Linked DNA regions of Homo sapiens. The protein of the gene in region 2 interacts with the protein of the main gene of each other region in a pairwise test. Each region holds a gene or a part of one and is shown on either strand. Other genes may lie near its edges.

Region 1 (3,500 bases), on a different chromosome or scaffold from region 2:
GCTAGGGGAGCTGAGCAGGAACCAGGTCCTGCAGGGCCTTGTAAGCCTGGAAAAGGGGAAGGGAAAAGTCAAAGACCCAGGTTTCTGGCTTGGCCAACTGAGAGGATGGTGGAACCATTTAGGGAAACAGGAATGAATCCTGCAGAAAGTACAGGTTAGGCATTTCGAATATGGTAAATTGGGGGGATATGCAAAATAATGCAGTTGGAGATGTCCAGCAGGCAGCAGGATATAGAGCTTTGGAGCTCAGGAGTGTGGTCTCAGCTAGGGGCATAGATTTGGGAGCTGATGACACAAAGACAGTGATAAAAAGCATAGGAATGGATGAGGCTAGGTGTGGAGGCTCATGTCTGCAATCCTAGCATTTTGGGAGGCTGAGGCCACAGGAATGCTTGAGCCTAGGAGTTGGAGACCAGCCTAGGCAACAAAATAACCTGTTTCTACAAAAAAATTTTAAAAAATTAGCCAGGTACAGTGGTGTGCACCTGTAGTCCTAGCTACTTGGGAGGCTGACGTGGGAGGATCTCTTGAGTCCAGGTTCAAGGATGCAGTAAGCTATGATTGTGCCACTGTACTCCAGTGTGAGTGACACAGCGAGACCTTGTCTCAAAAAAAAGTTATATATATGTATGAGATCATCCAGGGCTGAAGAAATGCACCTCACTAATCACCACCTCTTTTTATCACAAGCATCAGCCTTGAATCTACAACTTCAGGCTCCTGACAGTTCACTTTCAAAATAATCTTTAGCTGTAAAAGTAGTTGGGATCTGTAGCTAATGAGATTCCTGGTTCAGTTCCTTGTGTGTAAACTGAACTGCTACAGTTGTTTGGCACACTACTACACAAGTTAAACATTTCAAATAAATAACATTAGAACACTTTGTGGTCACAATTCATCTTCTTCAGCCACTAATTATTAAAAATAGGTAAACAGGAAGTGTCACTTGCATAACCAGTCTTCCTGAAACCTTCTGGAAAGCAGCACGGCCAAATCATGAAGGCTGGAGCTGTAGCAGAATTCAAAGTCAGCTTTATGCTCTATGTAAGAACAATCAGAAGAAAAGTGTAGTTTGTTTGACCTGCTGTGGTGTGATAGTTATATTCCAAAATAAGTTATCATAAGGTCTGATGTAAATAAAGATTTTTGAGGATACATGCTTAGAGGGAAAAACATATTTTCAAAATCCTTCCTCCATTTATTTTAAATTGTGGAGGCAGATATTGGCCCCACGTACAATTCTGTGTCTGCTGAACCAGTTGAGAGAATAAGCCCAATTCTGCAGAGCATGGTGCTGGACTCTAGCCCTGAATCAGCTAAAGCCACTGGGAGGGGAGAACCACACAGGGGAACCTTTGCTTGTCCTGAACGAATGCCTTGTCCCCAACCTGTGATGCTGCATGAGAGTAAGGCACTGGGGCCCAGGTCAGATAACTGGCAGCTGTAAGGCCAAAAAACATTGCTGGGGCCACTGCAGTTGTGACAGCTGCTGGGTTCCCACATGCAAATTGCCCCCTCTGGCCACAGGTCCAAACCCAGGAAGGCAGCTTCTGCCTGGAATATATGCAAGTAGCAAGTAAGATACAGGAAAGGCTTCTCTGGAGGAGCTTTCTAGGGAGCAGTACAAGTCAGTGCTCTTTTGGTTTCCCAAAGTCAGAGGCTGCCTCCAGATGTCCCATATCTCTGCAAGGACAACCAACCTTGGGCGACAGAGTGCTCAGAAGCCCAGCCAAGTGAGGGAGGAGCTCATCCTTCATCTCACTCAAGCCACTGCTGGTGTTTACATGGCACATCTGCTGACACCCGTGGGAAGAACACAGAATGGAGTTCCTGGGGAGGGTTAAAGGGGCCTGGCCATCCACAGCAGCAGTTCTGGCTGTGGCTCTACTACAGGTGGCTGGAGCTAAATTGGCCCTTCTGAGCTTCAGTCTCACTGTTGGGAAAATGGGGAGACTGCGCTGAATCACCTCGTCACTCTCTTTCCCCACAAACTTCTAGCACAAAAAAGTGAGGCTGGTTTAACTAGCAAAGCCAAATTCCTTTGGCCCTGCTTTCTGCAGGTGTCACAAAAGGCAAGGAGCTATTGGAGAGACCCTCCCCCCATTGCTAAAACTGTCCACTGAGGTAGCCACCAGGCACACTGTGCACATGAACACTTGAAATGTGACTAGTATCATCGAGAAACTGCATTTTTCATTTTACTATTTAATCCATTTACTAAGTTTAATCCAGTTAAACTTAAAAGCTGATAATTTAGTTTTTTGAAAACTTTCAAGTATGTTTGGAACAGTTAGGGTATGAATCTACTTTTTCACCTATAAATTTTACGAAGTCTAAATATAGATCAAGTACTTCAAATGAAAACTTTGTATCTGAATTGAGATGTGCTGTATATGTAAAGTACACACTAGAGTGTATTTCAAAGACTTAGTACCCCCCAAAATGCAAAACAGTTTTTATATTGATTACATGTTGAAAAAATAATTTTAGTATATTAAATACATTAATAAAATTAACTTCACCAGTTTCTTTTTCCTTTTTAAATATGGCTACTAGAAAATTCAAACATACATGTGGCTCACATTATCTATTTCTGTTGAACAGGACTGTTCTAGAAAAAGTCTTAAAGGCCTACCCTCCTACTGATGACCCAGAGACTGTCCCTGCCCAGTCACTGCTACTGTTGACCTTGGCTCCTGCCCAGGGATGGAGGCTCTCAACTGGGCTGGTTCTACATGGAGGTAAATGGAAAAGTAGAGCTTTAGACTCCTCTCCTCCCCAGATCACCACTAATATTCACAATGCTAGGGCAATCATAGAACGAAAATAAAAATTCCAGAGAAAGCATGTGTCCTAAGAGGACAAACTTACAAATACAGTTCTGGAATTCAGCAAAGAGGTGAAGCAAAGAAGGTTAGGTGAAGTAGCGCTGTTGTTCTTTGAACAGCTTTAACCAGCGTCAGTCCAGCAGTTTCCCCGACAAGAGAAAAGAACCCCTCAATACAGAAAAGAAACAAAGTGTCTGGGCCCTAGCATTTCAAGAAGGCAGCTTTGTCCTTGTTCTGCTTGGCTCAAAAGACCTCCATCCCTCCCTTTAAAAAATAAATTATGTCTTTTCAATTATAAACTGAACAAAACCACATTATAAAAAGTCTAGAAAATAAGAAAAATAAGTATTATTCCATTGCCTTGTTCCCACCACTTAACACATTGGTGCCTTTTCTTCTGTTTTTTTTTTTCTTCTACACATAAGGCTTCTTTTTATCATAGTTATAGTCTTGTGAATGCACTGTTTTGTATCTCACTGTTACTTAACATTTTATCATCAATGGTTTTCATATTATTACATGAGTAGAGATGCTTTGTAGGCAGAGAAAGGTGGCTGACTGAGTCTAATACTCACGGGGAAGAGCATTCTAGTTTGACCACTTAGAAAAGGAACTGCTAATTTGGAAGATCTTGTTAGCATAATTTATTTTGTCACTTTTAAGACAGCCCAC
Region 2 (3,347 bases):
TGAGAAATGAATTATCTTGTTACTGTCAAGTGAAAGTGGGTGTCCAGAGTCCCACGTGTTCTCCACTGATATCACAATAAGAGGGTAGAGGAGGGATTCATTGCCATCTAGTGGGAATGAAAGTCCTGGCTTCTACTTGCCTTTTCTGAAGCCATGCTGAAGGGTTAAAACATCTGCTTATAATGTTCTAGGCTCTCAACATTTGATGGTGTGGGTATGGGTGGGTCACAGGGGTTTTTTGTGTGATGTTTGGCTAGAGGATAATAGTTACTGTTTAAAAGTTTTCTGTCTTGCTAAGGTGCCTCTTTCCTGGTCTTTTACCAGAGAGAGCAAGATGTTATTGAGGGTCTTTTTTGTTGTTTGTTTTGATATGCATGCCTTGGCATTTCTAGTTGCCAGCTTCTTCAGCTCCAAGTCTGGGATATATGAAGCAAAAAAGAAAACTCAGAGAACCTACCACTGTGGCATTCTTGGATCTCAAGATTCTTTATTTGTCTGCTTTTCCTCCACAGTTCAGAGTCTTCTTATGCTTGTTTTACATATAATGTCCAGTGTTTTTATTTGTACTTAGTGGGAGAAATAGGGAAAAGTGTGTCTACTCCATCTTCCCAGAAACAGAAGTCCCTGAGCCGTTGTTTTTAAAGTAAGTTACAGACATCATGATATTTTTTACCTTAAAATACTTCATGATGTATCTTCTAAGAATACAGACATCTGTCTACATAGCCAGGACTTCATATCACATCTAAGAATTTAACATTGATACAATATTATCTAATATATGATTCCTATTCAGATTATTTCTGTTGTCTCCAAAATGTTTTCTGTGGCTATATTTCTCCTGATCCAGGATTATGCATTTCATTTGATTGTCGTGTACCTTTTGATCTATGATACAGTCTCCCAGCCTTTTTGTTGTTGTTCTATTTTAGTTTGGTTTTATCTTTCTTAACATTGACTTTTTTAAGAGTTCAGGCAAGTACCACAATCTGGATTAGTCTGTTACTCGTGATTATATTAAGGTTAAATATTCTGGCAACAGTGCTGTATAGTATAATATGCTGAATATCTCTCATTGCTTCAGTCAGGAAATGTGATAAGTTTGATCATTTGGTTAAGATGGTGTCTACCAGATCCCCATTGCAAAGATATCTTTTTCTTCTTTGTAATTAATAAGTAATATGTGGGGTAGAGACCTATTATTTTAAAAGCCTTGGAAAACCTTGAATTAAATATATGTGTGTGTGTGTGTGTGTGTGTGTGTGTGTGTGTGTATATATTACTGGAAATGCTAGCTCATTTTTACAGTAGCATTCCAAGCAATAAATATAGATAAAAAATGGAAATATAAAATCACCATTAAGCGAACACCACAGTAATCATTGTTGCAGGCAAGAATCATTAATGGATACTAAAATTAATGAGCAAAAGTATGATGAGATAAGATATTCACATAATCTCAACTCCCTGCCCCCAAGACAATAATTGCAAAGGGAATAGATACCACCTTATTAAGTGATCTAATTTAATATGTAATAACATGTATTGCGTATCACCTCTGATATTCTTGCCAAAATTGTATAACCTCATTTCAATCTTGACAAAACATCAGACACACCCAAGTTGAGGGACATTCCTACAACATAACTGATTAATACTCTTCAAGACTGTCAAGGACATGAATTTTTTTTTTTTTTTTTTTTTTTTTGAGATGGAGTCTTGCTCTGTTGCCCAGGCTGGAGTGCAGTGGTGTGATCTCGGCTCACTGCAACCTCCGCCTCCCAGGTTCATGCCATTCTCCTGCCTCAGCTTCCCGAGTAGCTGGGACTACAGGCGCCCGCCACCACACCCGACTAATTTTTTGTATTTTTAGTAGAGACAGGGTTTCACTGTGTTAGCCAGGATGGTCTCAATCTCCTGACCTCGTGATCCGCCTGCCTGGGCCTCCCAAAGTGCTGGGATTACAGGTGTGAGCCACCATGCCTGGCCAAAAATTTTTTTAAAAAAAGATGGAGGAGCTGTTACAGATTGGAATATACATGACAATTAATGCAATACAGAATCCCAGATTAGATTCTGGACCAGAAAAAGGACCCTAGTGGGACAATGGGCAAAATCTGAATAAAGTCTGTAGATTAGCTAAGAGTATTGAATCAATGTTCATTTCCTGGTTTGATGATTATACTATGATTACATAAGAGGATAACGGGGAACAGGGTGAAGAGTATACAGTAAACAAAGCGTATACAATAAACTGTTTTTGCATCTTTAACTCTAAAATTGTTTAGAAAGAAAAAGCTATTTTTTTCTATTTTTTCAGTCTTATATGATGAAAATCACTGATAAATACTTCCAATTCATTTTGCTTGGATAGCAGTCTTCTTTTTAAGTAAACAGTCCAAATTTGCATAAGAACTAAACATATTTAACAGAACATTTCCACATTCTTTCTGCATTATAACAGACACTGGTGTGTCCTTCCCATTCTGAAGCCTGGACACAGTTTCTCAGAGAGACCTGGGCCTCTCTCTTAGACTTTGTGGTTCCTATACTTACCAGGTTGTGAATTTTAGACATCTTCTAGAAAACAGTTTATTCACTCAACACATTGAGCACTTACTATGTCCCAGGCACTGTTCTGGGCACTGGAGATAAATGAGTAAATAACAGTAAAAAATCTCACCCCTCATGAAATAGATTCTGTTGAAAGCCTATGGATGACAAACAAAATAAGCACATTTCTCAAGTATGTTTATAGTATGTTGTGGAGAAAAATAAAGCAGTAAAGGGTGAATGCCAGGATGGGCAGGAGCGGTGAGAGGGGGAGTACTTTCTTGACCGTTTCATCTAAAATAGCACCCACTATCATTCTTACTCCCTATCCCTTTTTCCTGCTTTCTCTTTTTCAAGACATAACTGTTTGATATTATATATTTAAAATACATTTATAATTCTTCCCCATTAAAATTTAATATTTATATGAACAAGGGCTTTGTTTTACTTACAACTGAAGAACAATGCCTGACTTGTAGCAGGCCCTGAGTAAATATTTGTTGAATGAATTCTCCCTCAAATGTTCAGTCAGATGCTGTACCTAGCATAGTTCCTTGTACTCAGTGGGCGACTAGTAAAATGTTGTGGATTTTGTTAATACTCAGACTCAGGTTATATTAAGAGTCCATTTTGTAGAATAGCTTGTATGTGCTTTTTTGTATTTTCCTGGGTGAGAATGGAACACCCGCAGACCCTGGGAATGCTTCTTAGTTGCCTGTCACCATGGGGAATTTGCTCAGCCTGTTTGCAAGGAAGTCATTCCATTGTACTTCCATTTAAAATATGATACAAAA
Region 3 (4,150 bases), on a different chromosome or scaffold from region 2:
CTTACCATTCACACATCCATCCATGCATCCTCTATCCATCCATTCATCCATTCACCCATCCTCCAATTATCTGGACCAATTTCCTTCTTTTTTCTTTCCTTCCCTCCCTCTTTCCTCTCCTCTTTCCTATATTCCAAGAAATATTTGTCTAGAGTCTGCCATGTGCCAAATTTCTCAGATTTGGCAGACTTCTTCAAAGCATGAGAAGCCGCCCAGGAGAAAATTTAGTCCTTCATTGAGCCCAAATCAGCTCTTCTGTGCCCTGAGCTTCTTGCACATATGGAACTCTCTATTTAGGACTACAAAGAAGGAGAGAGGAGGTGCGGACAGAGAGAGAGGAGAGAGAAACAGAACGATTCCTAGTCTGAGGTTGCTGAGCGCCCCTACTTTTTTTGAAAATCTCACATGGTGCAGGAAGCAGGGAGGAGAACCCAAGTCTTAGGTTTACACTTTGAATCTCCAAGTTGCATATTATAAAGGGATATTGTATCAGCCAAGATGCATTAATAACAGGAAGCAGGATATTCTATTGCAATGGTTGCCTATTTGGTATCTCTGCTTCCAGGCTTCTCCCCACCAGTCTGCTCCTCACCAGGATCAGAGTGATGTTTCTACAGTGTCCCTGTCCTTGTCTCTCTCCTGCCTGAAGTCCTTAATTGGCCCCATGTCACCCACAAGCCAGAGGTCCAGCTCCTTGACATGATCAGAAGGATCTTCATCATCAGACCCCAGGTGCCTCTTCAACCCCGTGTGCATCCCCTTCCTGTTGGAATGTATATTTTACATTCCAGCAATATTGCAACTATTTACAATTTGCCAAGCACTCCATGCTATCTTATGCTCCATCCTTTGGCATATGCTTATCTTTCTACTGGATTTTTTTTTTTCCCATTACTCCATTTCATATGCTTCTTTGAACTGGGCATATTTGTCTCTTGTGCTCATCACCTTGCAATTTATTTGCTCATGTCTGTCTTTCCTACCAGACTATGAGCTGCTTGGTGCAAGGACTGCGAGTTATTCATCACTGTGGCCCTATGCCTGGTAGAGCATCAGTACCTAGAAGGCACTCAGCCTGTATTTGTGGGGTGAATGGATGGGTGGATGGATGACGAGAGTCTTACAAGAGAAATGGGATAGGTTTGGGACAAGATGGTTAATGTATCCATGTAACAGACCCCCAGAGAAGACAACAAATGGCCTCTTCCTGAAAGCTCAGACTTCTGAGGATGGGAGTAAGCCAGACAAGGTATCTAGTCAGGAATAGGGAAGTTGGGATGATATGGTGACCTGCTGTGGGACTGACTTCCTGTTTCCTCTAGATAAGAGCCCTTGGAGAGACAGGCAGCCAGAAGCACCTGTGCTCCCAGGATAAGGGTGAGCACTCAGGATGACTGTGGAGAAGGAGGCCCCTGATGCGCACTTCACTGTGGACAAACAGAACATCTCCCTCTGGCCCCGAGGCAAGCCACATCGCTGCTGAGAACCTGCTCCGTGTTCTGTGTGCAAACCTGCCCTTTGCTGCTCCTTCAACACACATTTTCTTCTTCTTCCAACAGAGCCTCCTCCCAAGTCCGGTCCATCTCTGGTCCCGGGGAAAACACCCACAGTCCGTGCTGCATTAATCTGCCTGACGCTGGTCCTGGTCGCCTCCGTCCTGCTGCAGGCCGTCCTTTGTAAGTCCTCATGTTTCATCGTCTGGGCTTAGCCCCTCTCTGTGGCCAGCCGGCTCCCTTCAGATCGAGACCACTTCCCTGCTCTCCGGGTTTCTCCTGCCTGTGGCTTTTTCATTTGTCTCCTTCCTCCTCTTTCCATGTGCAGTAACAGGCTGTGCTGCCCCCAGTACGGTGAGCTGATGCTCTTTCCCTCCCAATTTCTGGGAGATTATTGGGATTAGCATTTGCACATTGGTGCTCAAGGATACATTCTTTTGTCCTCAGGAAACATTGATCTAGTTTTACATCCTGTGCTATTTTCTCCCCGTCCACCCCCCACCAATCTGAGCTCTGCTCCTTGGATCTAGAGCCTTGTGGACAGTCCTTGACAGTGCAATGTCTCCTGACCCTGTGAAGGACCGAGCCTCATGTATCATTGGCCCCAGCTCACCAGATGGAGAGCCTGGCCAACGAGCCAACAGATCTCCATGACTCAGTCCCCTCTCCCCAGGACTCGTTGGTGCTGTCTTCATTCTCCTGTCCCTGTGAAGATCACATCTAGGGAGGCTTCCTGCTCATTTGATGTTGCATGGTTTATCTTTCTTCCTTTTCTGGCTCTGTCAGGCTTCATGGCCTTTGCTGCTGGCAGAGCCTTCTTCCTCCTGCCAGGGCTCCAGGAAGCAGAGCAAAGGGACCCAAGAAGCTGTTGGGTTTTTTTTTCTCCCTCTGTGGCCTCGGGACATATTTGGGCTTAGACTTGTAGGCTCTGAGCAGAGTCCCCCTTGCCCCATCCTAGACCCCTGGCCTCTAACATCGCATTTTCCTCAGGGCTCGCCTTTGAGCCTCTTGGTTTATCTTTGATCCTCTCTCTGGTACCCAGGCCTGGGACCTGAGCAGAATGTGAAAGTGGGTGGGGCAAGGGAAGGGGAGAAACAGTTTTGTAATCTCCTCTTCCATGTTCTCTGGAGAAGCCACTTCCAGATTAGTGGCTGGTTCTTCCCATGGTCACAGAGGGGCCCATGGACAGATGTGGGGGAGTGGTGCTGTCCTAGCAGATGGCCACTGCAGGGGTTTCTGAAAACAGAGGGATGGCAACCAAGGGGTGGGGTCTAGGGGGAATCAAGTTCTGGGGACAGTGGTGGGGCTCATGGAGGGCACCCTTTATCAAATGTTCCCTGAACACTCAGAAAATTCAGGAATGGTTTCTAACTCCTGCTTCTGCTTGCCTGTGAAATCTTTTCACAGAGAGCCTGTGTTTTATCAATCTCCCCATTATCTGTATCCACCTGTGTTCCTGGCACATGGTAGGTGCCCATTGCACGTTTGTTGTACGTTAATGAATGATTGGAGGGTTGGGGTGGCCCATTGGACTGTCTTGGTTCTTTGGGAAGCTTCAGCCTATTCCTTCCCTTCCTTTGATCAACCTGACAACACCCCCACTCCTGTCCCTGGGACTCCCCTCAGCTGACCTCCTGACTTTCTCAATCCCAGATCCCCGGTTTATGGGCACCATATCAGATGTAAAGACCAATGTCCAGTTGCTGAAAGGTCGTGTGGACAACATCAGCACCCTGGATTCTGAAATTAAAAAGAATAGTGACGGCATGGAGGCAGCTGGCGTTCAGATCCAGATGGTGAATGAGAGCCTGGGTTATGTGCGTTCTCAGTTCCTGAAGTTAAAAACCAGTGTGGAGAAGGCCAACGCACAGATCCAGATCTTAACAAGAAGTTGGGAAGAAGTCAGTACCTTAAATGCCCAAATCCCAGAGTTAAAAAGTGATTTGGAGAAAGCCAGTGCTTTAAATACAAAGATCCGGGCACTCCAGGGCAGCTTGGAGAATATGAGCAAGTTGCTCAAACGACAAAGTAAGTGACTCAGAAAATTACATTGAAGCTGACCAGTGGCCCATGGGATCTTACCTGTCCCAGACCTGAGGCCATTGGGCTGGTGGGTTGGGGAGGAGAGTGGGGGCAAAAGAGGGGCAGCCATGGGCTAGGAAGTTAAGGAGAGAGGGCTTGAGGTTGGGGAGGACTTAGGGGCTGTTAGGAGAAAAGAGACCAGGGTCCAGCTAGAGCTCCCACACAAAAGTGCAGAATGTAAAAGCATTAGGGGATGTCCACCCTGGCCCACACCTAGTCATTTCCCATCAAGTTCCTTTCTAGAGTCCAGGGGCTCAGCCACTTGTCATGGCCGATGGAGGGTTGCTTCCTCATCATGGGGAAGACACTCTTTGTCCAACCTCTTGCATTATAACCTCTCCAGTCCCAGAGACTCTATTAGTCTCTGTCTGACTTTCAGGATTTGAAAGAGTGTCCCTAATCTCCTATACAAGGACCCAAGGACACCAGCGCACAGCTCCATTTGCTGCTGTCTCTGAGACCTCATTCAAGTGCCCCCACCAAGCCAGCATCCCAAGAAATCAAGAATACCAGCGTTCACTTTTACCTCTTGTTCTCTAGATGATATTCTACAGGTGGTTTCTCAAGGCTGGAAG
Region 4 (3,500 bases), on a different chromosome or scaffold from region 2:
AAAAAAAAAAAAAAAAAAAGAACTCAAACCAAAAATTCCATAAACAAAGAGGTTCTCAAGTCTTGCTGAATCACACTTTTTATACTGCACTGAATTAGAATATCCAGGGGTAAGGTCCAGGAATGTGTATTTTAAGGAATCTGCCCAGGTAATTCTGATGACCTTGCTGCCATTAAGGTATTTAGTTAACAGGTACAAGCGAGAATGCGTTCAGAGTGAAACCCCATTATATACAGCACATCTCAATTGTATCTAGAAGAGGCAAATAATGCTTTATAGAAATAGATCTGCTGGGAGCGTGGCTCATGCCTATAATCCCAGGACTTTGGGAGGCTGAGGTGGGTGGATCCCCTGAGCTCAGGAGTTCGAGATCAGCCTGGGCAACATGGTGAGACCCCGTTTTCTACCAAAAATACAAAAAATTAGCTGGCGTGGTGGCACACACCTGTGGTCCCAGCTACTTGGGAGGCTGAGGTGGGAGGATTGCTTGATTCTGGGAGGTGGAGGTTGCAATGAATCGAGATCATGCCACTGCACTCCAACCTGGGTAACAGAGTGAGACCCCCCATCTCAAAAAAAAAAAAAAAAGAGAAAAGAAAAGAAATAGATCTATCTACAATAAAAACCTGATAAAGAATAGCTTTATTGTAACTTTCTAACCCAATTCTATGAATGGGCTTCAGAAGACCCTGTCAGCAATTCTGCAAGTGTCATCCAGGCATAGTTACCTATATGAGCATCATGGGTGAGATGAAGGCGCATGGGAGGCAGGGTGGATGTATTTGAGGCCCTGCCTTCAACCTACTGAAAGAAAATCTCTGGAAGTGGAGCCCAAGAGTATATATATACATTTTTAACAACTCCCTGGAAAATTCCAGAACATACTAATATTTGAGAGGTTCAGTTCTCGGTTCTAGTTTTGGGTTTGCTATGAGCTAGTTCTATAACCTTGGTCAAATAACAACATTTCTCAGGTACTTCATCTATATCATGTACAGACTGGGTCATCTCCAAAACACCTCCTAGCTCTAACATGATATGATTCTAACTAAACACAACATTTCACCTTCTTTGCAGAGCTGTAAATATCTTCTCGGTTGCTGCAGTCTACCACAAAGGTATGAACCTTGGCACCCAGTCCCTTGCATTTGGCAGCTGTTTCCTCCAGTCCATGCTAGAAAAAGCAAAAAAGAGGGCAAGGTAATAATTGATATGAACATATTATATCGACAGCTGAAAATAATTAAAAATAATTTTTAAAAAGTAGTGAGATTCTTTCCATTTGAATTGGGCAAGATTGTTAACAACACATTTTTGGCAGGTATATAGGCACATTTTGCTTTTAGTATTTTGACTAGCTTCTTTTATTTGGAGCTGAATTTAAAGCAAGCTTCTTAAAAGAAGATAAAAATCTTAAAATACTAGTTTTTATATTTATGAACTTTGAATACTTTGTGAATGTTGGTATCTCTGTGTATTCCATATCAGGCTTTAAAAAATGTAACATTAAACTTTTTTCCATGTCATTAAAAACTATTCATGGATGTCAGTTTACTGTCTGCAAAAGAAATAATGAGTTAACCACAGTTCATTAAACCATTTGTTCTTTCAGCATTTTAATGTGAAGGTCATATTCACTGAGCTTAGAAAAACCTTGACACAAATATGAATGAGGTAGAGTCCCGACCCCAAGAAGTTCTCTGTGTAGTAGAAAGAAACATAAGTATCATAGTTAAGTAGGACCACGTAATACTGTTATTGTTTTGATAATAAAAGATTGAATATTGGCAGTTTCAACCTAATACATTGTGATGAGTATCACAGCAGAGTTCTATACAGGGAGTTACGGGAACACAGAGGGGCACACAATACAATTCCAGCAGTGGTTTGCCATGCCCTTTCACTTGCTTTCCCCAGGGTGAAAGGACACATCAGGCAGGGTGTGGGCAATGACAGATAGGAGATTGGTCTTGTGGAAACCACTAGTAGGATTAGTGTTGTTGGATGGATCATAAAGGTCAAGGCCAGAAGAAGTTCAGATTAAGGTCCCACATGTCATATTAAGATTTATCAAAAAATGAATGAGGAGCCACTGATTAAATTATAGTGTCAGGTTTATGTGTCGTATTGATTATTTTGGCTGATGTATGGAGGGTGGATTTTAGGGGTCAACACTGGAGGAAGAAAAAAACTGAGAGGCAGTTACAGTGATTCAGGTAATAGATGACACAAACTTGAAATGTGGCATTAGTAGAAAAAATGTAGAGGAAAGAATATCCTTTAAAATATATGTTTAGAAGGTAAAATCAGTAAGACTTGGTGAGTAGATGAGGAAGGATGGGAAGGAGCCACATCTGACATCTTTGCTTTCTAGTTTTGGTAGCTGGCAAGATCACGCTGCCACATGTCAGACAGAGATGACAGCAGATTTGAGGAAAAGGGGTTATGAGTCCAATTTGGGGCGCCAATTTTGAGTCAACTTAAGTTTAGGATCATACCATTGGGGTTTTTTGTTGTTGTTGTTATCTTTGCTTGTTTGCTTTTGGCCAATTTTTGCCTTTTTTTTTTTTTAACTTTTAAGAGAATGTCTCAAAAGATATTTTGGATGAAGATCTAGTATTGTGCATTCTGCAGGCCAAGTATTAGGTTGTTGGAAAAGTAATTGCTGTTTTTGCCATTAGTTTAATGACAAAAACTGCAATTACTTTTGCATCAACCTAATAATTGTCAACTAATGCACTAATGGGCAGACCCTAGGAGGACTCATACATTTATCCACAGAGAGGATGGTGAATCAGTGTACACATTTGTAAATGGCAACTAATGTTGGAAAGGCCAAATCTGGACAGCTGTGGGGAGAATTAGTAGCTTGCATAGTGAAACTGTTATGATAATAAAGGGAAACAAGTTCTTTTTCTCCTGTGGGAAGTCAGGGACCCCGAATGGAGGGACCGGCTGGAGCCGCGGCAAAGAACATAAATTGTGAAGATTTCATTTTAATATGGACATTTATCAGTGCCCAAATAATACTTTTATAATTTCTTATGCCTGTAATCTCTTAATCCTGTTATCTTCATAAGCTGAGGATGTACGTCACCTCAGGACCACTGTGATAATTGTGTTAACTGTACAAATTGATTGTAAAACATGTGTGTTTGAACAATATGAAATCAGTGCACCTTGAAAAAGAACAGAATAACAGTGATTTTTAGGGAACAAGGGAAGACAACCATAAGGTCTGACTGCCTGTGGGGTCGGGCAAAAAAGAGCCATATTTTTCTTCTTGCAGACAGCCTATAAACGGATGTGCAAGTAGGAGAGATATTGCTAAATTCTTTTCCTAGCAAGGAATATTAACATTAATACCTTGGGAAAGGAATGCATTCCTACGGGGAGGTCTATAAATGGCTGCTCTGGGAATGTCCGTCCTATGTGGTTGAGGTAAGGACTGAGATACGCCCTGGTCTCCTGCAGTACTATCAGGCTTATTAGGGTGGGGA
Region 5 (4,217 bases), on a different chromosome or scaffold from region 2:
TATTTAGTAGAGAAGGAAGACATGCAAATGAGATTCTTCTGTTTCAAGCTTTATGAAAGTCATGTTTTCAATGAAACTGCAAAATATTTTTAAACTTTTAATTCATTCCTGCAAATGTCTCATTTTGCTCATTATTGATTTTGCTTTATTTTCACTTCACCAAGATAAAGATTAATTAACAAGTAACCAAAATAAGGAGAAAACGAAATGCCAAAGACAGGTTAGTAACATAAAATTGCTTTTTCATCAAATGTTCTGATGATTCTGAAAACTAGTGAATTAAAATCACTTACAAACAAGGCATCTTGTCTGTAAAGAGTCTGCAAACTGAAATGCTTCTTACATACCTGCATGTCTTTCTCCAGACGCAGGAGGTGGTACCTGTGCCATGTGAGAAAAGCTGGTCCCTCATGAGAGAAATCCACTTCACCAAAGCTTTCCTGTCCTACCCCAAGGAAAGTCTTTTTGACTGAGTAATAGTGTGTCCAAACAAAGTAGTTATAAATGGAAATGTTCTCAAATTGTGGCGTGTTGCCATCTGGCCCCAGTATTTCTTCTGATCTCCTGGTGGCAATGACAAATAAAGGGTGAGTTGTGCGCTTTGCCATATCCAGGGCCCGGACAAAGTGGTTCTTTTCTTCTTTACTTAAGTCCAGAAGATTTCTCCTGACTTTAGGGATACAAAATTCAAGCATGAAAACATCTGCCTTGCGGGGATGGGTAGAGAAAGAGCATAATCATCTTGTAACACACCACGACCCATTTATCCATCTGTTCAAATGTGTTTTAAATTATTTTACACTTTTAAAAATATCCTTAACTAAAACCCTTTCTTCAAGCCTGCTTTCTCTCTCTTTCTTCCCTTTTCTCTCTCCAATTTACTGCATGATTTATATTACCTTTCTTTAATCTTACCTATGGATTTTATGTTTCTGTGACCTTGTCATGTTGATTTCTGCCCACTGTTGGCATTTTTGTTGGAATTTTCTGTCTTTTTAACATTATAAATCTTTGAAAATTAGGTGATATAACATAGTAGTTAAGACCAGAGAATTATTCTATGACTTTGGGCACATTTTTCCAAGTCTTAGTTTTTTTTTAATCATTAAAATGTGGATAAAAATAATACTTGCTTTACAGAATTGAAAGTTCAAAGACCACACACATAAAAAGCAATTAGCCCAAGGCCTAACTCATAGTAAGGACTCAATACATGTTCATTTAAACCCTTAGTCTACTATCTCGCACATAGAACACAATCAAATATTGTTGGCTGTTACTGTTTAGTGCTTTGTTATTTAATGCTATTTAGTCTGCAGGCCAAACTCTTCATCTCAAATGCTGAATTTGATCATCATGGTGGGAAACTTCTTTAAGGGTCAGCAGGGGTAGTTGCAGAACTAAAATATAAGGGCTAGGTAGATCTCAGCATGAATTCCAGGTTTACTAAATATCACCTGTGTGGATTTGAACTTTCTGAACCTCATCTATGACAATTAACATGTTTACCTGAAGGAGTTACTGAATTGACTAGTCATAATACCTAACACAGTTCCTAGGATATAGTGGTTGCTCAATAAATGTTTCAGAATAAAATATTGATCAGAAGTTCTGAGCTTCAACTCCAACCCTTTACATTAAACAAGTTTCTTAACCTTTCTAAGCCTCAGTTTCCTCAACTATGAAAAGAGAGGGTTGAGCTATATGATTTCCAGGTATTCCTCCAGCTCAAATGATTTAAGATTTTATTAAGAGCCTTGAGTCTCATGCAGGACTTATGAACTCATTCATATCTCCACTTACCTATGAGAACCCTCTGGTCACAGGCAGCTCCTCTCCAGCCAGGACGGCACGTCCCACAGTTGTGTCCTGAGAAATTGCCGTTGCAGTGACATGTCCTATTGAAGAAGCGCAAGGGCCAGACCTCCCGATCATCTCTGCCATCATGGGGATACTGAGGGCTGTGGGGCCGGGAGTCTGCAGTCACTGCCTCACATCTGCCCCTCCCTGATGATGAGCCACAGCGGTCTGTCCCAGGCCCAGACACAGGGGACAGGTCTGGGCAACACATACCACTTCTCAAAGCCTCAACAGTGGCACACTGTCTTGGGAATTGAGCCCGGGCCTGCTGAAAAAGTAGCAAGGGGAAGAAGATACAGCCCAGAGAGAGGAGTTTAGGAGCACTCATTCTGCTTGAAATAAGAGTGCAAAACAAAGACCTGGTTTGCAGCTCTTTGTGTAGAGAAGACTGAAGCACGTAGAGGAAAATCCAGCTGAAAAAGAGAAAGTAAAATGAGATTATGCAAGTTTTTCTTGGTACTTAAAATGGTATGCCCCCTTCCCAAACCACTTTCAAAATGGAACCCATATGTAAAATGACATTTCACACAAATAATAAAAGTGTGACATTTCACACAAATTTTACCTTTAAAATTTGGCATATATAACACCTGCATGTGTGATACCCAAATAATTAAATTCCCTGTCCTCGTCATTTTGTTTATATATATATACATACTAGATATCAGTTATCAAAAGCATGAATTAGCAGGTCACCATCATTAATTACATTTAATTTAACCTTGGAGCTGAAGGAAGAATTGGGAACAGATTTCCAGCAAGTTAATTTCTGTGATTTAAAGTCCCTTACACTAATGGAGTTTTGGCACGTGTCCACCCACTCCCCATAGGACTTCTTTCCAGTACCTCACAATCCTGAAGGATGTCTCTGATGAACTTCTCTTAGAATTGAATGTTTTATATTTGCTTGTGTTTCTTGTCCTCTCACGTCAGAACTGTTAAGTGCATGTGGATTGCTGCCTGATAATTAATCCCAAATCTGCTCACCCAAACTAGGCGGGGGGCTGGTCTTTTTTTCCACCCTTTACTAATCCTTTTCACTTCAGTGAATATTTCTGCCCTTTAAGGACTTGATCAGCACATGATTCCCTTCCAACTGATTTCCTTGTGATGCTTAAAGTTTTAAGAAAAGGCCAGAAGCACTAATTTGGAATACAAGTCAGATAAACTAGTGAGATTTGTTTACTTTGCAGAGATTTTTTTTTATTCTGTTATTCAACTGTTATTCAACATATTACCTTGCTAGAGCAACCAGGCAAGAGAAGGTATAAAGAGCATCCAAATTGGAAATGAAGAAGTCAAATTATCCTTGTTTGCTGATGATAAGATCTTATATTTGAATAAAACCTAAAGACTCCTCTAAAAAACTATTAGAGCTGACAAACAAATTCAGTAAAGTTGCAGGATACAAAATCAGCATACCAAAATCAGCAAAGTTTCCATATACCAACAGTGAAAAATGTGAAAAAGAAATAAAAAAGTAATCCCATTTACAATAGCCACACATAAAATTAAATACCTAGGAATTAACCAATGAATGAAAGGTCTCTATAATGATAACTACAAAACATTGATGAAAGAAATTGAAGAAGACACCAAATAATGGAAAAATATTATATGTTCATGGATTGGGAGAATCAAGATTGTTAAAAAGTCCGTATTACCTAAAGCAATCTACAGATTCAATGCAATTCCTATCAAAATACCAAAGACATTCTTCACAGAAACAGAAAGAAAATCCTAAAATTTATATGGAACACCAAACCTTGAAGAGGCAAAGTTATCCTAAGCAAAAATAACAAAACTGGAGGAATCATATTACTTTACTTCAAATTATACTACGGAGTGATAGTAGCAAAAACAGCATGGTACTGGCCTAAAAACAGACACATAGAGCAATGGAACAGGAGAACCCAAAAACAAAATCACACACCTACAGTAAAGACATTTTTCACCAAGATACCAAGAACATACACTGGGGAAAAGACAGTCTTTTTAATAAATGGTGCTGGCAAACTACATACCCATATGCAAAAGAATGAAACTAGGTCCCTATCTCGTTCCATATACAAAAATCAAATAAAAAATGATTTGATTAAATATTTAAATCTGAGACCTCAAACTATGAAACTACAATGAAGAAACATTGAGGAAAATCTTGAGGACATTGGTCTTGACAAAGATTTCTTGAGCAATACCACACAAGCACAGGTAGCCAAAGCAAAAATGAACAAATGGGATCACATCTAGTTAAAAATCTTCTGCACAGCAAAGAGTACAATCAATGAAGTGAAGAGACAACCCACAGAATGGGATAAGATATTTGTAAACTACCCATTTGACAAGGGATTAATATC
Region 6 (3,500 bases), on a different chromosome or scaffold from region 2:
AACTACATGAGACTTTCAAATAGTTTTGTTTTTATCTAATTCATTTATAATGAATATGTAGGTAATAATAACTTCCTTTTTGAGTCTGGAAACATTCCAAAGAACAGTCAGGTTCTCACTGTAGAAATACAAAACATATATATATATATGTAAGTGTATATATATATATGCAAGGAACACGGTAGGGACAAAGTAGATTGCCTAAAATGAACACTTAATCTCTATGAAAAGAGACTTTTCTGTCTTATTCTCCCCTATATCCTCAGTGCTAAACATCATGTGCAATATATGATGGGCACTGAATAAGCAGTTGCCTAATGGATGAGCACTCTTCATGTATTATATTGCTGAACAGGTAGGTGGTAAGGATTTGGAAATTTAAGGATAATTGCTGTTTACTGACGGAACAAAGAACTGCGAAGATCTCAATTAATACTTTTATTTCCTTCCTCTCAGTAGGACATTCTCTCCACAGTAAAATGTATAAGGCCAGGGAGCGGGGGTGGGGGGAAATCACTGTAGATGGTTGTTGGTTTTAGCACGTATGGTAATTATATAAAGCAATTTTTGTCATAGCTGAATAATGATTCTTGCCTTAAAAGCAGGGAATTATTTCCTTTTTCATGCCATGTCGTTGGTTTTTCGTTTTTTATTCAATTTGGTATATTGGAAGGAAATCGATGCTTAAAAGTTTAACCCTCTACTTTTTTTAAAAAAAATCTCTATGCTCTTTAGCAAGTCTCTTCCAATTTCAAGAAAATATGGTGCTCATGCTCATATAGTGGAGATGAGCATGAAATTTATTATGATAGCCTTTATTTAAGCAGTCAATATTTATTCAACTGACCAGTACTGGGCACTGGGGATACAGTTTTGAGCAAAACAAACATTTCTGCTTCTATAACACTTATATACTAGAGGAGCAGAGGGGCATTAACCAAATAATCACATAGATAAGTACATAAAGGATGCTATGAAAAGGCATTAAAATGCAGATCCTATTAATACATATTATATAGGAAATAAAGAATATTAATTTAATTTGAATGCTTACCCAACCCTATACGCTAAGACACAACGTTAGGTTTTTTCAAAGAACCATACTTTGTAACTGAAAGATTATTTTTGAGCTTTTACTTATCATCCTAATAGCTGATAGTTAATTGATAATTTATGTGTCAGATATAATACCGCATACTTTATGTGCATTTTGAAATTCTTGCAAAAACCTTCAAAGTAGGTAATATCATTCTTACTGAGGAAATTTAGGCTGAGCAAGTTTAAATAACTTGCCCAAGCGTGCACATACAGGACCTGCCCAAACCCAGCTCTGCTGGAACTTACCTAACATGTTCAACCATCATGCTGCTTCCTGTGATCATTTAAAGTAACCAATTTAAAGCGATATTGCACATAAAGATGGCTAGCTTATTTATGGAGAAAAATAAAGTGGATAGTATATGCCCAGTGCCTTTCTGTTTAAAACACATGATTTTGTTGGATGTTAAACCTCCAAATTTTACCTTTTTGAAAAGTGAGTTAACATTTATTGATCATCATATTTGTGCCAAGGTGAAATAATTTTGTTTCCTACCTCAACTCCCTGCATTCCTTCCCTCATCCAAAGATTTTCCTGATTTACTACACATAGTCAGGGAATGGTAATATTTTAAAGAAACGTCTGTTAATATGGTCACACATATTTCCACCTTAGTGGAGCAAGTCACTAATGATTTATGCATGTGACTTTAATCACCATTTCTCTTTTGTCTGGTTACTTAAGAATATGAGTTGTTTTCTTTTTCTCCTAGAAGTCTTGTGGTACCAGCCCTATTTACAAAATTATAAAACATCCATAGAAATCACTTAATTTAAGCAAAACCAGGAGTACTTTTGACTATTTAACCATTTATGTATTTAGTGACTGTCACTAATTCAGTAAATATTATTTACCACCTATTGGGTGCCATTACTAAGCTCTGTGATGAGGGTTAGTAGTGCACAAGGAAAGTCCCTGCATTCATGGAACTTCCATTATAATTGTTCATATCTCCTTGGAAAGTGGAGTTTTCCTAACATGTGTAAATTGTCCTGGTTTGCCATTATTTATTTAGCTAGTCAGTGTATATCAAATGTTTTCTATATAAAGAGACCCAGAAACTTGGAAATGTATTTAACAAGTACTAGTTCGCAAGTAATGAATATTTTTTTGCAAAGGTGAAACTTCCCTTCACAAAATGTTTACTCATACACCTAAAATATTTTAAAGTGTCAAGTTAGTTTGCTATGTGGTCAAGTGCCAAAATACCAAGATGATGACATAACTGATATGTCAGGGATCATAATCCCTGATATGATTATCATATCATAAGTGAAGTGATAATAGAATGCTCTGTTTTTAAGTGATATTTGTTATGTGTGCAGTTCTGGGAGGTAAAAGTGGAGATGTACTAGTTTGTTGGGGGCGTTGAGGCCAGAGCAATGCTTGCTCATGTAATGCCACATATAGACATTGATATCTATACGGGGTAAATGTATGAGACTACCTGCCCTGATACTATCCACCTTAGACACTGCCTAGTGATCTCAAGAGCTGAGGAGATCTTTGCTTCACCACATCAATAGCCATTTGCTTGTATGACACCCTGGCTCAGGAGATTTGTAGGACAATGCTGAATGTGGACTATGTAAAGTAGTTTGACAAGTTATCATATGGGCCACCTTTAAGCCCACACAAATCTGTTTCTGATAAATTTGAATGACTGTTATATCTCTCAAACTTCTGAATATTAGGGCTTCAAAGATAATAAAGACATCATATTTGTGTTCAAGGAGCTTATCTAGTGAAGGAGTACCACTGCTTTTTGTGGTAATAAACTAAACTTTTGGGAATGTGGCAGCAAGAGCTGAAGCTATTTGGAGAAGGCTGCTCTTAAATATCATTCCTGTTAGACAAAGCCATCTGAAAAGCCACTTCATAACATAACAAAAACTATTATATTTTTGTAGAAGACTAAATATTTATCTCTAATCAGCATAAATCTTTTACAAACTTGCCCTGTAACTGAATCTATTTTCAGTTGACCTTTTCTGCTTGGATATATTTCATTTCACTCTTAACTGTGCAGGCAGGGAGAAGTATTGGATGAGAGCTGTAGAAAGGGGTCCATTTAAGAATGAACTATCCAGTCTTGTTTAAATGCCATTAGTGGGGAAAGAGCAAGTACAGAAGGAAATATTGAAGATATGGGAAAGGAAGATACCTAAGAAGACATTAAGGAGGGAATCTAAATAAAGCTCTTGTCATAGGACAGGAGAGAGATTTTCCATTGAAATGTTCCCATTTCCATGCCTTTCATTCTCTCTTATGCTTTTTGTAGTCTGGCTTCTAATTCTACCACTCTAGAATTACTCATGCAGAAGATGGTTAATAAGCACATTGTCTCAGTTTCATGGATATTTTCCCCTTTTCTGTAGCACTCAGTGCACTGGTTCTTACT
Region 7 (4,147 bases), on a different chromosome or scaffold from region 2:
ACCCTTGCGAAAAACTTTATTGGCAAAGCTATCAGAGAACGGACAGTGTACCCACTGAGGCGGCCAAAGCTTAACTGGATCAGGGCAGGTGAGCTTACAGCTAGGAGCGTGACTGCTTTGTCCTACAATGGTCATTTGGTCCATCCTTCTGCCCCTTTCCCGCCTCCCCGTTTGAGCCAAGCCTCTTTCAGATTACTGGTTAGAGTGACTCCAGCTTTCCCTTTTCCCCCATAATTTAAACAAACAAAAAGTGCATGTGAAAGTTTCCTTGGAAAGGGCCGAGCATCACATAGGAGTAAAGCCCCGGAAGAAATGACTTGTACAAGCGTCTCGGCCCTTCAGCTCCCCTCCCAAAGATTTCCAGCTTGCATATCTATCTCTTACGAGCCAGTAACATTTATTGAACTGCCATCTTCCAGCCACAGTGCAAGATTCTAGACACACAGAGGTGAGCAAGCTAGACACTATCCCTGCCCTCCCAAAGCTCAAATGATTTTAGGGATAAGGACTCATAGAAATGAGAAGCTAGTCCCTAACGTTTCTATCTCCTAATCCTCACATTGGAAATCAGGGCAGGTGGGCTTACAGCTAGGAGCGTGACTGCTTTGTCTTGTTTTAGCTTAAAACCTAAGTTAAAAAGCAAGGGTGGTTTGTTTTGTTGTTGTTGTTTTTGCCTGTGTATGAATTGTAATGAGAACATAAATTGCCCTTCTACCACTATGCTCCTGGCTGCAGCCACCCACCTTCTTTCTGTTCCTGAAACAGCCTAAGTCTTTCCCATCCATTGGTCTTTCACTTGCTGTTCCTCTGTCTGTAACACTCATACTCCTGATTTCCCATCAGGTTTCAGCTCAAATATTACCTTACCAAAGAGGTCTTTCCTATTAAAATTGTCTAATTGATTTAGTTGCTAGGCTTCTTCATTATGTTACCCCAATAGAACATAAGCTTCTCAAGGGCAGAGACCTCAACTGTCATCTTGTTCTCTTCTGTGTCTGCCTAGCTAATAATTGGTGTCCAGTAAGTATTTACTGAATGAATAAGTGTACAAATTCCATTTCTGGGTATCCCAGCCTACTCCGAGCACCCTTTGTTGCACAAATCCACTTTTCTCCCTCTGCTTTCCTGAGCTGGGAGTTCTTACGCATTCCAGGTGCCTAGAATGTGAACTTACCCCTTTGCCCAGCTGCATCCCAACTTTCAGAAAGGATGACATCCTCCTCTGATGCTTTTTTTTGTCGGCAGATTCAGCAGGGCGGGGCCTGCCCCTTTAAGCTGGGCCCCACCTGCTCTGGTCAGACAGGTTTTGAGACACAGGTAAAGGGAGGGAGACAGAGAGAAATACTTGCAGAGCCAGCAGGTAGCTGGGCAGCTCCTTCCCGGACGGACGGATGGACAGACGCTGGGGACCCTCCACTCCATATGGAAAGTAAGAGGATGTCATGGGTCCAAACTGCAAGGTTTGGAGTGCCCTTGAGATAAAGGAAGGGAATCAGTCCCATCCAGAAGCAATGAGATGGAGGGCAGCAGGGAGGAGAGAAAGACAGGAGAGAAGGCATAGAAAACAGCCATGATCAGACCTAAATATCAGAATAGCAGACCCAGGCCCTGCAGAGATGGATGAGGTGGGCTAGTGAGGAGTTTGGGAACTGACCAAGTACCAGTGAAGGAAGAGGGTGCCTGGAACTGCCAGCTCTTTGGGTCAGATCAGTTGGCAAATCACTGGTCTCACTTGGAATGCAGGAGGGTTCCAAGCAGGGATGTGTAGGGATGGGACAGTGGAGAGGAAGCTTCTCTGTCTACAGCAAGATCCTCAGTGGGAAAGAAACTTGGCAAAGTTCTAGACACCTCTTCTGCCTCCTATTCCTGCATTAGAGTGGCCATGACTCCAGGGGTTTTGGTGGAGGGGCATAGAAGGCGTGGGTGGAGGCTGACTGAGTTCACAGCTGCCAGGGCCTGTGTCCCTTGACTCACCCTCTCCTGTTGGACGGCATTTGATGTCGAAAGGGTGCCTCCATTTCAGCTGCTCACTTCCTTCCCTCCTCCCTCTGTTTCAGTGTCTTCCTCTGTACCACGTTCTCCCTAAGGCTCCAGAAGGGGCCAAAACCCATGAAGCCAGTTGCCCTGGAGAGTATGAGTTCTGTCAACCTGTCCTAATAACTAGAAGACAGGGGTTTCTGACAGAGCTTTCCTCTGTTCCCTGCAGGATGACATGACCTTGTGGTAGATCCCAGAACTGAGGCCCCAGGATGACAGAACAGGAGACCCTGGCCCTACTGGAAGTGAAGAGGTCTGATTCCCCAGAGAAGAGCTCACCCCAGGCCTTGGTTCCCAATGGCCGGCAGCCAGAAGGGGAAGGTGGGGCCGAATCCCCGGGAGCTGAGTCCCTCAGAGTGGGGTCTTCAGCTGGATCTCCCACAGCCATAGAGGGGGCTGAGGATGGTCTAGACAGCACAGTAAGTGAGGCTGCCACCTTGCCCTGGGGGACTGGCCCTCAGCCCAGTGCTCCGTTCCCGGATCCCCCTGGCTGGCGGGACATTGAACCAGAGCCCCCTGAGTCAGAACCACTTACCAAGCTAGAGGAGCTGCCCGAAGACGATGCCAACCTGCTGCCTGAGAAAGCGGCCCGTGCCTTCGTGCCTATTGACCTACAGTGCATTGAGCGGCAGCCCCAAGAAGACCTTATCGTGCGCTGTGAGGCAGGCGAGGGCGAGTGCCGAACCTTCATGCCCCCCCGGGTCACCCACCCCGACCCCACTGAGCGCAAGTGGGCTGAGGCAGTGGTGAGGCCGCCTGGCTGTTCCTGTGGGGGCTGCGGGAGCTGTGGAGACCGTGAGTGGCTAAGGGCTGTGGCCTCCGTGGGAGCCGCACTCATTCTCTTCCCTTGCCTACTATACGGGGCATATGCCTTCCTGCCGTTTGATGTCCCACGGCTGCCCACCATGAGTTCCCGCCTGATCTACACACTGCGCTGCGGGGTCTTTGCCACCTTCCCCATTGTGCTGGGTGAGCCTGTGAGAAGAAAGGGGGCATCGGGAAGTGGACTTGAGGAGGGCAGGGCCTGGCTGGTGTGGGGAGCAGGAGGATTTCCCTTCACTTGACCTGGGCCCCTCAGGGTCTCCCACCCCCTGCCAGTCTGCATGCCCATCTCCTCCCAGGACCACCTCCACCCCACTGTGTAGAGCCCATGCACTGCCCACAGTGAATCTGCCCCCAGCTTACTGCCTCTTGTGCCCTTCCCCTGCCTTTTCTGACCCTACCCTGTTTCCCAACTCCACCCAGGGATCCTGGTGTACGGGCTGAGCCTGTTATGCTTTTCTGCCCTTCGGCCCTTTGGGGAGCCACGGCGGGAGGTGGAGATCCACCGGCGATATGTGGCCCAGTCGGTCCAGCTCTTTATTCTCTACTTCTTCAACCTGGCCGTGCTTTCCACTTACCTGCCCCAGGATACCCTCAAACTGCTCCCTCTGCTCACTGGTCTCTTTGCCGTCTCCCGGTAAGTTGGGGCAGAGGGTGGGGCATGGGAGAGGGGATGGTGCTAGAGAACCTAGGCATCTGAATGTCTGGAGAGCCAGGGTCAGGAGCTTTCCGGATTCTACACTGGCCCAAATGTGTGCCCTGGGGAGATAAGTCCACCTTCTCTCTTGCACCTTACCTCAGCTGGTCAGCAGATGGAAGCCGATTTCAGAGACATATATAACCATATGGAACAAGAAGGCTTTCAGGTGTCATCTAGATCAATGCACCCATTGCAGCCACTCCTGTGGCAATCTGGTCAGGTAGCTGTTTTGGTCTCTGGTTGAACACCCCCTGTAACCAAATGTACAACTTAAAAATAGATATATTTTTTCAAAATAGAGACAAGGCTGGGTGCAGTGGCTCATGCCTGTAATCTCAGCACTTTGAGAGGCCGAGGTGGCAGATCACTTGAGGTCAGGAGTTCGAGACCAGCCTGGCCAATATGGTGAAACCCTGTCTCTACTAAAAATACAAAAATTAGCTGGGCATGGTGGTGCACACCTGTAGTCCCAGCTACTGAGGAGGCTGAGGCAGGAGAATCGCTTGAGTCCAGGAGGTGGAGATTGCAGTGACACAAGATCGTGTCACTGTACTCTAGCCTGGACGACAGAGCTAGACTTCATCTCAA

Evidence for each region.
Region 1: the proteins of SEC22A (region 2) and TP53INP1 interact in binary tests that used the Homo sapiens proteins (3 or more experiments, as listed by UniProt).
Region 3: the proteins of SEC22A (region 2) and CD207 interact in binary tests that used the Homo sapiens proteins (3 or more experiments, as listed by UniProt).
Region 4: the proteins of SEC22A (region 2) and HSD17B11 interact in binary tests that used the Homo sapiens proteins (3 or more experiments, as listed by UniProt).
Region 5: the proteins of SEC22A (region 2) and TYRP1 interact in binary tests that used the Homo sapiens proteins (3 or more experiments, as listed by UniProt).
Region 6: the proteins of SEC22A (region 2) and FAM174A interact in binary tests that used the Homo sapiens proteins (3 or more experiments, as listed by UniProt).
Region 7: the proteins of SEC22A (region 2) and TMEM79 interact in binary tests that used the Homo sapiens proteins (3 or more experiments, as listed by UniProt).

Annotation. Positions count from the first base shown.
Region 1 is NC_000008.11:94,942,879-94,946,378, forward strand, and holds part of TP53INP1 (tumor protein p53-inducible nuclear protein 1), read right to left. Parts: exon of another isoform or gene 2,605-3,500; intron 1-2,604. UniProt on the Homo sapiens protein: Antiproliferative and proapoptotic protein involved in cell stress response which acts as a dual regulator of transcription and autophagy. Acts as a positive regulator of autophagy.
Region 2 is NC_000003.12:123,267,943-123,271,289, forward strand, and holds part of SEC22A (vesicle-trafficking protein SEC22a), read left to right. Parts: intron 1-3,347. UniProt on the Homo sapiens protein: May be involved in vesicle transport between the ER and the Golgi complex.
Region 3 is NC_000002.12:70,833,017-70,837,166, reverse strand, and holds the start of CD207 (C-type lectin domain family 4 member K), read left to right. Parts: upstream 1-1,350; 5' UTR 1,351-1,390; coding exon 1,391-1,463; intron 1,464-1,559; coding exon 1,560-1,676; intron 1,677-3,146; coding exon 3,147-3,521; intron 3,522-4,115; coding exon 4,116-4,150. UniProt on the Homo sapiens protein: Calcium-dependent lectin displaying mannose-binding specificity. Induces the formation of Birbeck granules (BGs); is a potent regulator of membrane superimposition and zippering.
Region 4 is NC_000004.12:87,381,189-87,384,688, forward strand, and holds part of HSD17B11 (estradiol 17-beta-dehydrogenase 11 precursor), read right to left. Parts: intron 1,175-3,500; coding exon 1,067-1,174; intron 1-1,066. UniProt on the Homo sapiens protein: Can convert androstan-3-alpha,17-beta-diol (3-alpha-diol) to androsterone in vitro, suggesting that it may participate in androgen metabolism during steroidogenesis.
Region 5 is NC_000009.12:12,691,968-12,696,184, reverse strand, and holds the start of TYRP1 (5,6-dihydroxyindole-2-carboxylic acid oxidase precursor), read right to left. Parts: upstream 2,801-4,217; 5' UTR 2,707-2,800; intron 2,274-2,706; 5' UTR 2,189-2,273; coding exon 1,804-2,188; intron 671-1,803; coding exon 348-670; intron 1-347. UniProt on the Homo sapiens protein: Plays a role in melanin biosynthesis. Catalyzes the oxidation of 5,6-dihydroxyindole-2-carboxylic acid (DHICA) into indole-5,6-quinone-2-carboxylic acid in the presence of bound Cu(2+) ions, but not in the presence of Zn(2+).
Region 6 is NC_000005.10:100,538,374-100,541,873, forward strand, and holds part of FAM174A (membrane protein FAM174A precursor), read left to right. Parts: intron 1-3,500.
Region 7 is NC_000001.11:156,282,978-156,287,124, forward strand, and holds the start of TMEM79 (transmembrane protein 79), read left to right. Parts: upstream 1-1,347; 5' UTR 1,348-1,429; intron 1,430-2,206; 5' UTR 2,207-2,249; coding exon 2,250-3,006; intron 3,007-3,282; coding exon 3,283-3,496; intron 3,497-3,655; exon of another isoform or gene 3,656-3,810; intron 3,811-4,147.